Homo sapiens: one gene and its partners. The protein of the gene in region 3 purifies or fractionates together with the protein of the main gene of each other region. This does not show direct contact. Each region holds a gene or a part of one and is shown on either strand. Other genes may lie near its edges.

Region 1 (4,356 bases), about 13 Mb from region 3:
ACAGATCAGCAAAGGCTGGTAAATGGCACACAGTGCACCTGCAGCTCCATTGCTGCCCACGTGCCTGATTGTTTAGACTTACAGTAGCTGGGAAATGGGGAGACAAGGTGAGAGCCATATAAAAGTACGTGGATAATTAGTATCCTGCCTTTCTTTCCAAACAGCGGGCAGGCTCTGGATCTCGGCGGGATCAGGCCAGGCAGCTGATCATAGATCTGGAGACTCGAGGGAGTCAGGCTCTTCCTTTGTTCATCTCCTGCTTAGAGGACACAGGCCAGGACATGCTGGCTTCGTTTCTGCGAACTAACAGGCAAGCAGCAAAGTTGTCGAAGCCAACCCTAGAAAACCTTACCCCAGTGGTGCTCAGACCAGAGATTCGCAAACCAGAGGTTCTCAGACCGGAAACACCCAGACCAGTGGACATTGGTTCTGGAGGATTTGGTGATGTCGGTAAGTAGCAAGAGAGTGATTGGTGGGTGGGCATGACACGTAGTCATTTGGGACTCACTATGAGTACAGCTGGGTGGGCTGAGATTCAGAATTTAATTTTAGCATTGTCTTTCTGAATGTTCATAGGGATGGCAAAATTCTGGGAGGTTTTCAGGAGGTTGAATCTTGGCAGCCCCTCCTCTGAAAAGCATGTGTTGAGGTCTGTTTTGGATGTCCCAGGTTTTTTGTTTTTGTTTTTGTTTTTTTTCCTGCCTTTGAGATAGCAGGCCCCAGGTTTTGATCAATGTTTCCAGAGCCATCTATTGTTTTGGATTTGCCTTTCAGTCTGGGTGGGTAGCCTGGACTACCTCATGTCTGGGGGCAGGAGACAGGCCTCAGTTGTATCTGCCCCATACAAACAGACATCTGCAAAGTATTTACCCTTACCTTCTTCGTTTATAGCAACCTTGCAAGGCAGGTATCATTAGACCCATCCTTGTTGATGGAGAAACTGACTGAAGCTCACGGAAATTAAACACTTTGCCAAAGGTCACACGGCTACATCCAACAAAATGCATAAATCCCAAGAGTAAGCTGGGTGATTTTTACCTATGCATACCCACAGGTAACTAACACCCATATCATCAAGATGAAAACATTCCGGGGTCCTGTAAGACCGTTGACTCTCTTTCCATTTCTTCCCACTTTCCCTTTCCCAAGGTAATCACCGTTCTCATCTCTATCGCCAGAGATCCCTTTTGCTTGTCCTTAAACTTCAATATAAATCCTATATAGTCTTATATGCTCTTGAGCCTGGCTTCTTTCATTCATCATTGTATCTTTGAAATTCATTCATATTGTTGTACATATCGGTAGTTCATTCTTTTTAATTTCTACATGGCATTCTGAATAATCCACAGTTTATTTAACCATTTTCCTACTGATGGACATGTGGGTTGTTTTCAGTTGGGGCTTTGTTCCCATGGCAGCGTGTGGAGCTCTAGCACTTCCTGTTTCATGGGTGTCTGGTGGACCATTGCATGGTATCAAAGTTAATAATCATAATAGTAATGGTGAACATTATTGAGTAATTGCTATTTGCCAGGCACCGTTCGGAGTGCTTACATAAATGATCTAATTTAATCTCTCCATCTCTCTTGTAAGGCAGGTGCTTTGCTGTTAGAAAAAGTGAGCCACAGATTGGGAGATGACTTGTGCCAAATCACACAGCTAGTGAGGAGTGGAGACAGGGCTGCAGCCCGGGCTTACCTGTTCTGTCTGCTCTGCAGGGTAGCCCCATGTGTGCTTTGTGGGACACACCTCATTGATCCGACTCATGCTGGTGGACATTGTGTTGTTTCTGCAGTTAGCCTTGCATGTGCGTCTAGTTCTGACTGCAGGATATTTCTAGAAATGGAATTGTGTGTTAAAGGGTACTTGTTCCTGTCCGATAGATGCTACCAACTTATACTTCAAAAATATGTCATTTTAGCCAGGTGTGGTGGTGTGAGCCTGTAGGACAAGCTACTTGAGAGGCTGAGGCAGGAGGACTACATGAGCCTAGGAATTCACAGCCAGCCTGGGTAACTTAGTGAGATCCTATCTCTAAGAAAAAAGAAATTGAAAAATTGTGTCTTTTTTTTTTTTTTAATTGAGGCAAGGTCTTCTGTGGCCCAGGCTGGAGTGCAGTGGCATGATCACGGCTCACTGCATCCTTGAACTCCCAGGCTCAAGCGATCCTCCCACTCAGCCTCCCAGGTAGCTGTGTGCGCCACCAGGCCTGGCTAATTTTTTTGTATTTTTTGTAGAGACAGGGTCTCACCATGTGGCCCAGGCTGGTCTTGATCTCCTGGGCTCAAGCAATCCTCCCATCTCGGCCTCCTGGATAGCTGTGCATGTTATCCCTGGCCATTTTTTTTTTTTTTTTTTAAGAGGGAGTCTCGCTCTGTCACCCAGGCTGGAGTGCAGTGGCGCAATCTCAGCTCACTGCAACCTCCACCTCCTGGGTTCAAGCAATTATCCTGCCTCAGCCTCCTGAGTAGCTGGGACTACAGGCAGCCGCCACCATGCCTGGCTAATTTTTGTATTTTTAGTAGAGATGGGGTTTCACCATGTTGCCTAGGCTGATCTTGAACTCCTGGCCTCAAGTGATCCACCTGCCTCAGCCTCCCAAAGTGCTGGGATTAAAGGTGTGAGCCACCACTCCCAGCCCATGCCTGGCCAATTTTAAAATTTTTTGTAGAGATAGGGTCTTACCGTGTTGCCCAGGCTGCCCTCAAACTCCTGTGCTCCAGTAGTCTGCCCACCTCGGCCTCCCAAAGTGCTGGAATTACAGGTGTGAGCCACTGCACTCGGCCCAAATTGTGTCATTTTATAATCTCACCAACTGCGAGTGAAGGTGACCACTTTCCCACATTCTTGCCAACAGTGAATATTGACATTTTTTCCTGTGTGATGGGTAAAAAGTGCTGTTTTCTTTCAACAAAAATTCACCAAAACTCATTCATATTGTTGTGCATATCAGTAGTTCATTCTTTTTAATTTCTAGATGGCAGCAGTTCCTGTTCTGAATAATCCACAATTTATTTAACCATTTTCCTATTGATGGACATGTGGGTTGTTTTCAGTTGGGGCTTTGTTCCCATGGCAGCGTGTGGAGCTCTAGCACTTCCTGTTTCATGGGTGCCTGGTGGACCATTGCATGGTATCAGAGTTAATATTCATAATAGTAATGGTGAACATTATTGAGTACTTGCTGCATAATGGTGATTTTTGGGCAATCCACTAAAGCAGAGAAACAGACAAACATGATAAGGGTAGGAAGCTGCATTTGCTTGAAGTGTAAGGAAGAAGACTGGTTCTGGAATTGGCCATGTGCATTACCATCCTGTAAAGGAGGCAGGCAGAATACAAAGCTCATCTGTTGTTATTTGGTTCTGGGAAATGTCAACGTGAGTCATTTAGGACCAACAGTCAGAATTTGAAACTTCCTGTTTTTTTGGAAGGTGTTTTATTTCCTGTTTCTTGTGAATATTTATTCCTAGTAGGAGCTTAATTCTGAAGGGTAAATAACAACAGCAATAGTAAGATCACTTAATTTTTTTTACTTTATTATTATTATTTTTTGAGATAGGGTCTTACTCTGTCACCCAGGGTGGAGTGCGGTGGTGTGTTTTCGGCTCACTGCAACCTCTGCCTCCCAGGTTCAAACAATTCTCTCACCTCAGCCTCCCAAGTAGCTGGGACTACAGGTGCACCACCATGCCTGGCTAGTTTTTGTATTTTTTGATAGAGACAAGGTTTCCCCATGTTGGCCAGGCTGGTCTTGAACTCCTGACCTCAAGTGATAAACCCGCCTCAGCCTCCCAAAGTGCTGGGATTATAGGTATGAGCCAGCACGGCTGGCCCAAGATCACTTTAAATAATGTGAATATCACTTTGTAGTATACACAGTGTTTTTTCAGGTCATCAAAACCACCCTGTGCCGTGGTAGACATGGCAAGCCCGTCTGTCATTATATGCTACTTACAGGGGAGGAAACTGGGTTCTGAGAGCAACAGTCACAAAGTGAGTTCCAGTACAGAGCTAGGACTTGGGCCTAGGTCTTCTGGCTTAATAGAGCGACTGTCCCATTTTCCATGAGCTGCTGAGAGATGTCCTTTTTAGATGCTGGGCCTTAGACTCCAGAGTACTGCATGGGAATGTTTCCCAAGGTAGGTTTCATGGTGACCCACAAAGGAAGAGCTGTGTATTCATATGTATGGGAAGGTCTGGCTGAGCAAGAATAGGGCCAGCAGCAGAGCCTTTAATAAGTGAATACAGGAAAGGATGCTGTAGGTCAGTGTTTCACACTGGGGACGATTTTTCCCCGACCTCCAAGGGACATTTGACAATGTCTAGAGACAAATCTGGTTGTTATAGCTGAGG
Region 2 (4,356 bases), on a different chromosome or scaffold from region 3:
CTTCTTCCAGTGAGATATTAATATATTCTTCTATCTCCTTTTCCCTCAATTACAGTCTGTTCTGATATGGCATTTGTCATATGCCATGTTCAGTGGTAAGTACCCGCAGGCAATACACGCCCATGGTGCAGACGGCTCCTCGTGGCCTCACTGGTCCCTCCTCTGACAGGCATGCTGTGCTTTTGTTTCAATCTATCCTCAGTGACTTGCGGCTTTTGTTCATTTTTATTTTTTTAGGGAAACATGGTTTCTTGGAACATTTGTAAAGCATTCACTTTATCCCTTTATTTACATTGTTTGTGTACCATTGTGACCCATATGTTAAATGTTGTTATGAAAAGCTGTGTTACCAGTTTTCCAGGAGGTTAGAACTCCAGCTTTTATGTTAGGATGCTAAACTAGATATTCTAGGTATTGTGTTGTTTCTTATGCATTAACGTTCACAGAGAAGGAGGGTTTTATCCAAATGGAAGGGCTGGATTAAGCACAATGCAGTGTTGAAGCAGCATCCGCCTACTGTTGGACTGAAATGAGCATTCCTTTCTTCTCTTAGAGGAGAAAATGTGGGGCCTATATATGACTAGTGGTTGTTGATGTTTGGCTTTTGTGCGCCCTCAGTATATGAAATACCCTTCCTCAAGAAAAAGCATATGTTGGCTGGGTGTGGTGGCTCATGCCTATAATCCCAGCACTTTAGGAGTCTGAGGCAGGCGGATCACTTGAGGTCAGGAGTTTGGGACCAACCTGGCCAACATGGTAAAACCCTGTCTCTGCTAAAAGTACAAAAAAAAAAAAAATTCACCTGGCACGGTGGCAGGCACCTGTAATCCCAGCTACTCGGAGGCTGAGGCAGGAGAATCACTTGAACCCAGGACAGGGAGGTTGCAATGAGCTGAGATTGCGCCACTGCACTTCAGGCTGGGTGACAGAGTGAGACTCCGTCTCAAAAAAAAAAAAAAAAAAAAAGGAGAAAAGAAAAAGCAGACAGCCTTATTCTCATGAGAACAAATGGGAAAATACTTTTTTTTTCTCATATTAAGTTGAAAGATATAAAATTGCTGTTTTTAGGTCAAAAAATGGATGAATATTGGTAATTTTAGAGGCTCCAACCTAAGTATATCAGTAGGGGCTTAAAGTGATCCCTTCAGAATTAGAACAAGCAGTTTGGGCCTACTGATTGCAGCCAAAGATTTTGAAATACTTCAGAATCAAAAGCTGATTCATCGGCAGAGCAGACACTGGTGGAGGATTGCGCGGGCACGGAAGAAGGCTGCTGTTGTGTCCCTTGTTGTACTGTTAGAGCGGGCTCTGCCCTGGTGAATTCTACTCCCATGGAAGTTAATTCCAAAGTTTCATTTTTTAAACATGATGATTAAAAAGAAGCTTTTGACTCAGATTTAGAGAGAGGGAACTCACTTCTTTCTCAAGGTGATTTCAGTGCAGAGGAATATGAAGACCGCTCAGGGTTAGTGTTATTTAAGAGAGAGAGAGATTCCTGTGACTTTTAAAATGATGTTATCATTACTTGAGATACTCTTTCCTTGAGATGCCACTGTGTAGTGCTTCATTTTTTTTTTCTAAAACAGTATGTTTTGAAGAGTGCTTTTTAAAACCGTTGGAGAAATGTCTGTTTCTTTTTCTAGGCCATGACCTTGCCTCCTTTCCTGGAGTTCGGTGTCCCGTCCCCAGCCCACCTCAGAGCCTGGACGGTGGAGAGGAAGCGCCCAGGCAGGCTTTTACGAACTGACCGGCAGCCACTCAGGTAGGTTCCTTGCTGGACGCAACACTGTCCCTCTCTGCTGCTGACGCACTGGCTGGTGTGAGGGATGGAGGAGGAATCAGTCTTCTGAGCTGAGTGACAACAAAGCCCATTCCTGGTCATGCCACGCTTGTGACTTGGGTGACACTTTTCATCATAAACTCCAGCAGGCCTTCAGTTTTCCATGTTAAGTATAAATGTAGTGTTGTATATTTTTTCTGTGCTCCAGTGACTGTGACATTATATAACTTAAAAGCATTTGGAGTGAGATGGAAAGTAGGAGTGGCTGTTTCTCACTCAGAAATGTTGGATTCAGCTGATCCTCCTCCTGAAACTTTGAACTTAAAGAGCAGGTTTGGGTCATTTCCTTTGCAAAAAGCAGCCTTGAGGCTTTTTGTTTCTTTCTTTCTCGTTTCTTTCTTTTCTTTCTTTCCTTTCTTTCCTTTTCTTTCTTTTCTTAATAGACAGGGTCTGGCTCTGTCGCCCAGGCTGGAGTGCAGTGGCGTGATCATGGCTCAACTACAGCCTCAACCTCCTGGGCTCAAGTGATCCTCCCACCTCAGCCTCCTGTGTAGCTGGGACCTCAGGCATGTGCCACGACACCAGGCTAATTTTTTGTTTTGACGAGGTCTCCCTATGTTGCCCAGTCTGGTCGCGAACTCCTAGCCTCAAGCAATCCTTCCACCTTGGCCTCCCAAAGTGCTGGGTTACTGGCGTGAGCCACTGTGCCTGGCCAAGGCTGCTTTTAATCGGTTCTGATTACCACCCCAAAGTGACTGGCATGAGAATCTTAACCCCGGCTGAACAGAGGGAAATTTCTTTGGCAGTTTGGCCATCTTCCCAGAGCCAGACCTACATGTTTAGTAAGAAATGACTCAAGTATCTAAATAATCACCGCAGCAAGGATTCTCATTTTTTCCCCTTTTCCAAAAGTTTGGGTGTTCTTATAAGTACTCAGAAAACAATTCTTTGCTTAAGAAAAAAGCTTAAAATTGGGGGAAAAAAAATTCAAGAAAATTAAATGTTATGTCACTCAATATTATCTTGTTTCACTTATTATCAGGGAATATAAACTAGGACGGAGAATTGAGATCTGCTTAGAGCCCCTTCAGAAAGGCGAAAACTTGGGGTAAGAAATTCTCCTGTGCATCTGAAGTGACACACACGTATCTTAACCTCGTTTGCCTTTTGAAGCTTTAACAACTTCATAGTGTAGCATTTTTTTCACTGCTTCTAAGTAGCCTAGCAACTTGAAACAGAGTGTGTGCTAGAAATATGTTTGTATGTCTGGGCATCTAAAACTTGGGACTTATTCTCCCATAAAAACAGTAAGGGAGAATTAATTTTTCAGTAATCACCAGGTGCATATTGACCCCATGATGGCCCTGAAGTGTCAGCAAGAGGCCCACCCGCAGCTGTTGTCAGTGTGTTCGGACAGTCTGCCATCCAACGGATTCATCATTGCTCCCGTCGCTCTGCCCCCTTATTCTACTTTCTTCATCCTAGTATCACCTGACATATCTGTACTTACTGATTTATTTGTTAGTATCTGTCTCCCACTACTAGAATATAAGTACTTGGTTTATTCATTGCTATATCCTTAATACCTAGAATAGTAATTGTGCCCATGTCATAGTCAATAATTATTTATTAAATAAAGATACACCCAAAATTGTCTACAATCAAACCATCTTGTTCTTTTTTCGCTGTAGGAAAATATTTTACAAGTCCTTTTGTAAATATCATGAACTATTAAGATTTGCTCTACCTATTATGATATGAGTATCCTTCTTGTGGTCTGCTTGTTATATGAGAAAGTTATCTTTCAACCATGTCTAACATGTATTTAATTTTAGTGTTTTTATAAAAACACATTCTTAATACAAGTTGTACAACCAGAAATAGTTTCCTGGAGGGGAATTCCAGGATCAAATGGTGTGGACATTTTAAACCTCTTAAAATAGTTAAATATTTCTTCAGGCAAGTTGTTCCAGAATATGAGTATTTATTTTACCTCACCCACAAACCAGCATTGACTATTTCATCGTCTAGGTATTTCCTAAATTGATAAATGAAAGATGATTATCTTGTTCTCATATTCTCCAGTGCTTTGATGACTAATAAGTTCAGGCATTTTTGCAAACTGTATTTTGTGAGTGCATGATTGAGTTATTTCGTGTATTTTGACTGCTTCTGTAATGAAGTCTAAAGGAAAAGCTCTCTTGGAATTTGTGTGAGCTCTTTATGATTTTGACCCTTTGTCACAATGGTTGTAAGCTGTGTCAGGTTTTGATAGGCACAGTGCCTTTTGCCCTTTTGAAGAGCAGCTGTGTGCCTCCTCAGGCCCCTTCCATGGGCTTTTCTGTCCTTGACCAACTTCCAGGGCACTCCTGCTCTCAAGGAGGCCTCTAGTCCCTCCTGTTTCTCTCCAGCAGCCTCTGTCCCCTCCTTGGCAACTTCAGCATCTGTGCCGATGCCCTTTCTGTCCTCTGGCCGCACTGTGCTGGGCTCCAGGCCTTGGCCTCACTCCCTGGCCAGCAGCCCCCTCCCCCATGGGGACATGGGGCTGTGCAGCCTCTGCTCTTGCACTCTGCACT
Region 3 (5,806 bases):
GAGGCCAAGGCAGCAGATCATGAGGTCAAGAGATCGAGATCATCCTGGCCAACACGGTGAAACCCCGTCTCTACTAAAAATACAAAAAATTAACCAGGCGTGGTGGCTCGTGCTTGTAGTCCCAGCTACTCGGGAGGCTGAGGCAGGAGAATCGCTTTAACCTGGGAGGCAGCCAAGATCGCACCACTGCACAGACCGAGACTCCGTCTCCAAATCAATCAATCAATAAACAAACAATTATGGTGGCTCACACCTGTAATCCCAGCACTTTGGGAGGCCAAGGCAGGAGGATTGCTTGAGCCCAGGAGTTAGAGACCAGAGTGGGCAACATGGTAAAACCCCATTTCTACTAAAAATGTAAAAATTAGCCAGGCATGGTGGTTCCTGCTTGTGGTCCCAGCTACTCCGGGGGCTGAGGCAGGAGGACTGCTTGAGCACTGGAGGCTGGGGCTGCAGTGAGCCGAGATCCCGCCACTGCACTCAGCCTGGGAGATCAACCCAGACCGGTCCCCCCCACCAAAAAAAAGAAAAAAAGAAAGAAAAGAAAAGAAGGGCCGGGCGCGGTGGCTCACGCCTGTAATTCAACACTTTGGGAGGCTGAGGCGGACGGATCACAAGGTCAGGAGATCGAGACCATCCTAGCTAAGACGGTGAAACCCTGTCTCTACTAAAAAATACAAAAAAATTAGCCAGGCGTAGTGGCGGACGCCTGTAGTCCTAGCTACTGAGGAGACTGAGGCAGGAGAATGGTGTGAACCCAGGAGGCGGAGCTTGCAGTGAGCCGAGATTGCGCCACTGCACTCCGGCCTGGGCGACAGAGCAAGACTCCGTCTCAAAAAAAAAAAAAAAGAGAAACTTACTTAGTAGGGTTGCTGTGAGGATTATACAAGACAGAAGCATCTTCACCAAGCCATAGGCCATAGAAAGGTCTTTTTGTTTGTTTGTTTTTTGAGATAGAGTCTCACTCTGTTGCCCAGGCTGGAGTGCAATGGCCTGATCTCGGCTCACTGCAACCTCCGCCTCCCGGGTTCAAGTGATTCTCCTGGCTCAGCCTTCTGAGTAGCTGGGACTAGAGGCGCGTGCCACGACGCCCGGCTAATTTCTGTATTTTTAGTAGAGACGGGGTTTCACCATGTTGCCCAGGCTGGTCTCGAACTCCTGGTCTCAAGTGATCTGTCCGCCTCGGCTTCCCAAAGTGTGGGATTACAGGCGTAAGCCACCACACCTGGCCATAGAAAGGTCTTAATACGGCCGGGCGCGGTGGCTCACGCCTGTAATCCCAGCTCTTTGGGAGGCCCAGGCGGGTGGATCATGAGGTCAGATATTGAGACCATCCTGGCCAACATGGTGAAATCCTGTCTTTACTAAAATACAAAAAAAAAAAAAAATTGCCGGGCGTGGTGTCGCGCGCCTCTAGTGCCAGCTCTTCGGGAGGCTGAGGCCGGAGAATCACTTGAACCCAGGAGGCTGAAGCTGCAGTGAGCCGAGATCGCGCCACTGCACTCCAGCCTGGCCAAAGAGCAAGACTCTGTCTAAAAAAATAAATAAATAAATAAAAAATAAAGGTCTTAATACTTGTTAATTACTATTACTGACCCCAGGAACTCTCTGAAGCACTTTTCATGCAGGTATCACCTTCTTTAGCACTCACATTATGTCTTATCGGAAACAGGTTTAGAGCTGTCAAGAAATTCCTCCAGAGTCGTTTACACTTCCAGCAGGGGAGTCAAGACTTCAACCCAGAAACTCACAAGCAGGAAAAACTTGGCAAACAGGCACGGGTCAGACAATGCTTAGGGCTTGCTCAAGGACTCGTGACCAGTTACTGATCTATGCAGATCTTCTGATTGCAAACTGATAGCTGGATTGTAACTTGAAGGGTCCGATAAGATGTAAACTTCATAAAACAGGATTTGGGGAGGTAAATGGAGTAGAGTCCTCCAGAGGAGTCGAGAAAGCTAGCTTGGCCCTCAATTGTGGTTGAGGTGATTCTTTCATTTAGGGCCTATTTTCCTCATCTATGAGTGCGGGAAGGAGAGTTACTGGGGTCTCTAGCGACCTTTCCAACACTGATTTTCAAGGGCGAAAGAATTCTGCTTAGGTAAGGCCCAAATCCCTTGGCTAAGGTTAATCCTCGGTGGGACCGGCAATAGGGACGCGTCCCCTTTAAGGCGCCAGCTCTCCGGCGGCGGCGGCCGGAAGTGTTGAAGCCCGGCCTGGCGGCGGCGGTGGCGGTAGCTGCCGTGGCGGCCTCTGCGCATGCTCCGTCGCCTGCCCGCCCTGGCCGCTCGCCGCCCGCCCGCCCGACGGAGACGGTGAGGAGGGGGAGGGGTGGGCGCGCGGGCGCGGGGTGGGGTGGGGGCGGGGGGGCGGGCGCGGGGGCCGCGCGGCGGCCGGCGAGGGCGGGCGGGCGCGCAGGGGGCGGGGGGCTGCTGCCTCCGCGGGCGCCTCCCCACGCCCTGTGCGTGCCGCCGCCGCCGCCGGGGAGCGAGCGGACGTCGCGGCGCCGCGGGGGGGTGGGGGGACGCTGCCGCTGGGTCCGCCCGAGCCGCCGGGCCGCCCCCAGCGCAGCCGGCCGCGCCGCCGGGGCTCGGGCCCCAGACCAGGGCGGCGGGAACCGGCGAGTCCACCACTGGGGGGGCCCCGGCGCCCCCGGACCGAGGGGCCCGGAAGTACTCGGCTCAGGGGCCAGGAGGGGCCGGAGTGACTCCGGACTGAGAGGGCCAGGCGCCCAGGACCCCATCGAGGGGTCCGGGGAGCCTGGGGTATCCCCAAAGGCGGGGTCCGGGGAGCACCGGGCCCTTGGATGAGGAGCTGGTTGGAGGCCTGGGTCCTGCCCAGTGGGAGGGGGACGATAGGTGCTGGAAGCCCGGATGCCCGCCTGGGAGGAGACCCTCTCGGAGCCTTGGCGGGAGAGCAAGAGTACAGAGTGGGTTCTTCTGAGGAGAGCAGAGTCCAGCTTATCCCGAGGGGCGCGGTAGAGGCCTCGGCCACTCAGAACAAGGGAAAAAAGGGCAGGTTTTTTCCAAAGGCAGGGAAGGAAGAGGAGCTCTAAGGGGAAGTGAGCAGGCCCAGGTCTCCCCACAGATGAGCGCGTGGTAGGAAGACTCCTAGAGCCTCCTGAAGTACGAAAGAGCAGCGTCCAAACCTGAGGGGATGGAAGGTGTCTAGGTGCCTCTTGATGTCTAGGTGGAGAACAAAGTAACCCGCTCGGTCAGGGGATGGAGAAACCTATCTTTTTGAGAGAAGCAGAGATCGTTGAGGAAAGATGCTTAAGGTGTTCCCGCTTTCTGAAATGACAGGAATTGGCCAGGTGTTATCTAATTGAGGGGCAGGAGAGATGAAGGCAAAATCTCAACCCGAGGGTCTTTGGAGGATGATCCACAAGACAAGAGGGTGAAGTCTTGACCTAGACAGCAGAGCAGGCGCAGCCCTGGATTCTCTCAAGATGAGAGAAATCTCAAAACCACTTCCTAGTAGACACAGATGGGGCCTTGATTGGTGTCTGTTTAGGCCAATCAAGACGGGTTTTAGGAAAAGAGACTGTCAGACATAATTCTAGTCTTGAGGGATTATCTTCTTCCTCCTTGCCTCTTCTAATAGTTACCAAAGTGCATTTGGGGACCCTTTTTATTTATTTATTTATTTATTTGTTTTTTGAGACGGAGTCTCACTCTATCGCCCAGGCTGGAGTGGTGGCTCACTGCAACTTCCGCCTCCTGGGTTCAAACGATTCTCCTGCCTCAGCCTCCCGAGTAGCTGGGACTACAGGCGCGTGCCACCACACCAGCCAATTTTGTTGTTGTTGTTGTTGTTGTTTGAGACGGAGTTTCACTCCTGTTGCCCAGACTGGAGTGCAATGGCGCGATCTCAGCTCACTGCAACCTCCGCCTCTTGGGTTCAAGCGATTCTCCTGCCTCACCCTCCCGAGTAGCTGGGGCTACAGGCGCCCGCCACCACACCCAGCTAATTTTTGTATTTTTAATAGAGACGGGGTTTCACCATGTTGGCCAGGCTGGTCTCGAACTCCCAACCTCAGGTGATCCCACATCCTCAGCCTCCCAGAGTACTGGGATTACAGGCGTGAATCACTGCGCCTGGCCCAACCAGGCTAATTTTTTTGTGTTTTTAGTAGAGACGGGGTTTCACCATGTTAGCCAGGATGGTTTCGATCTCCTGACCTTGTGATTCGCCCGCGTTGGCCTCCTAAAGTGCTGGTATTACAGGCGTGAGCCACTGCGCCCGGCGGGGGAAACTTATTCAATGGTTGCACCGTCTCCTAATTTGAGAGCCTTATATCAAGGATGTATATTTAATATCTTACTTAAATGATTTTTTTTGGGTTCCTATTTACTTCAGCAAATACATTGTATAGGTAGCTTCTACTCAGCTTCATTGGGTTTATTGTGGGGGCAGTATTTTGGTCTTGCCCTAAGCCAAAGTCCACCGGACTGTAGCGGGATGACTCCAAATAACTCTTATCCCATCGCTCCCTCAAACATCTACATAATAGTCTCCAGTCTGTGACTTAGAATTTCACCTCCTCTGGATACTTCCCTCAGTGTTTCTGCATAATTTACTTGTTGACCTCATTACATCTTGTAGCACTATGGATCACCCACTGAATGCATGAGAAGAAATAAAGGGGATATCAAGGAGTTTTGGCCTCAAGTAATAATAAAGTTTTAACTTGGATTTTTCCCCCCGTTTTAAACAAAACTGTAGTTTAGAGTGGAAATTTCTTTTTTATTTTATTTTTTTGGGGGAACAGAGTTTCCCTCTGTTGCCCAGGTGAGAGTGCATTGCGGGATCTCAGCTCACTGCAAACTCGATCCTCTCAGCTCAGCCTCCTGAGTAGCTGGGACTACAGGTGCGTGGCACTGCGCCCGCCTAATTTTGTTAGTTTTCTGGCGGGCGCTGTGATTTATGCCTGTAATGCCAGCACTGTGGGAGGCCGAGACAGGCGGCCTCCCAAAGTGAGCGGCCTCCTCGGCCTCTCTTTAGCTCGAGTTCCAGACCAGCTTGGGCAACATGGTGAAACCCCGTCTCTACAAAAAATGACAAAAATTAGATGGGCGTGGTGGAGCTAGTTGCCTGTGGTCCCAGCTACTCTGGAGGCTTAAGTGGGAGGATCGCTTGAGCTCCGGAAGTCGAGGTTGCAGTGAGCCGAGAGCGCACCACTGCTCTCCGGCCTGGGTGACAGAGTGAGACTATGTCTCACTAAAAAATAAATAAATAAATATATAAAAAATAAAACGACTACACAGTCTTCAAAAGTTATAATAGAGTGTGGAATAAATAAATATTTTGGGCTGGGCGCGGTAGCTCACGCCTGTAATCCCAGCACTTTGGGAGGTGGAGGCGGGCGGATCACCTGAGGTCAGGAGTTTGAGACCCACCTGGCCAACATGGTGAAACCCTGTCTCTACTAAAAAATACAAAAATTAGCTGGGCGTGGTGGCAGATGCTTGTAATCCCAGCTCCTTGGGAGGCAGGAGAATTGCTTGAACTTGGGAGGCGGAAGTTGCAGTGAGCCGAGACCGTGCCATTGCACTCCAGCCTGGGCAACAAGAGAGAAACTCCGTCTCAAAAAAAAAATTAAATAAATATTTTGGGGTTAGAAAATTTCAGAAAATCTCGTACTCATTTTTACTTTTTTTTTTAACTTTTATTTTTATTTATTTATTTATTTATTTATTTATTTATTTATTTTTGAGACGGAGTCTCACTCTGTCGCCCAGGCTGGAGTGCAATGGCGCGATCTTGGCTCACTGCAAGCTCCGCCTCCCGGGTTCACGCCATTCTC

The links.
Region 1: the proteins of GMEB1 (region 3) and CASP9 purify together in Homo sapiens (affinity purification with western blotting; one study listed by BioGRID). This does not show direct contact.
Region 2: the proteins of GMEB1 (region 3) and USP40 purify together in Homo sapiens (affinity purification with western blotting; one study listed by BioGRID). This does not show direct contact.

What each region holds. Positions count from the first base shown.
Region 1 is NC_000001.11:15,514,204-15,518,559, reverse strand, and holds part of CASP9 (caspase-9 isoform alpha precursor), read left to right. Parts: intron 1-164; coding exon 165-450; intron 451-4,356. UniProt on the Homo sapiens protein: Involved in the activation cascade of caspases responsible for apoptosis execution. Binding of caspase-9 to Apaf-1 leads to activation of the protease which then cleaves and activates effector caspases caspase-3 (CASP3) or caspase-7 (CASP7).
Region 2 is NC_000002.12:233,486,771-233,491,126, reverse strand, and holds part of USP40 (ubiquitin carboxyl-terminal hydrolase 40), read left to right. Parts: intron 1-55; coding exon of another isoform or gene 56-95; intron 96-1,228; exon of another isoform or gene 1,229-1,465; intron 1,466-1,643; coding exon 1,644-1,762; intron 1,763-2,822; coding exon 2,823-2,888; intron 2,889-3,110; coding exon of another isoform or gene 3,111-3,363; exon of another isoform or gene 3,364-3,446; intron 3,447-4,356. UniProt on the Homo sapiens protein: May be catalytically inactive.
Region 3 is NC_000001.11:28,666,525-28,672,330, forward strand, and holds the start of GMEB1 (glucocorticoid modulatory element-binding protein 1), read left to right. Parts: upstream 1-2,259; 5' UTR 2,260-2,315; intron 2,316-2,693; exon of another isoform or gene 2,694-4,671; intron 4,672-5,806. UniProt on the Homo sapiens protein: Trans-acting factor that binds to glucocorticoid modulatory elements (GME) present in the TAT (tyrosine aminotransferase) promoter and increases sensitivity to low concentrations of glucocorticoids. Also binds to the transferrin receptor promoter.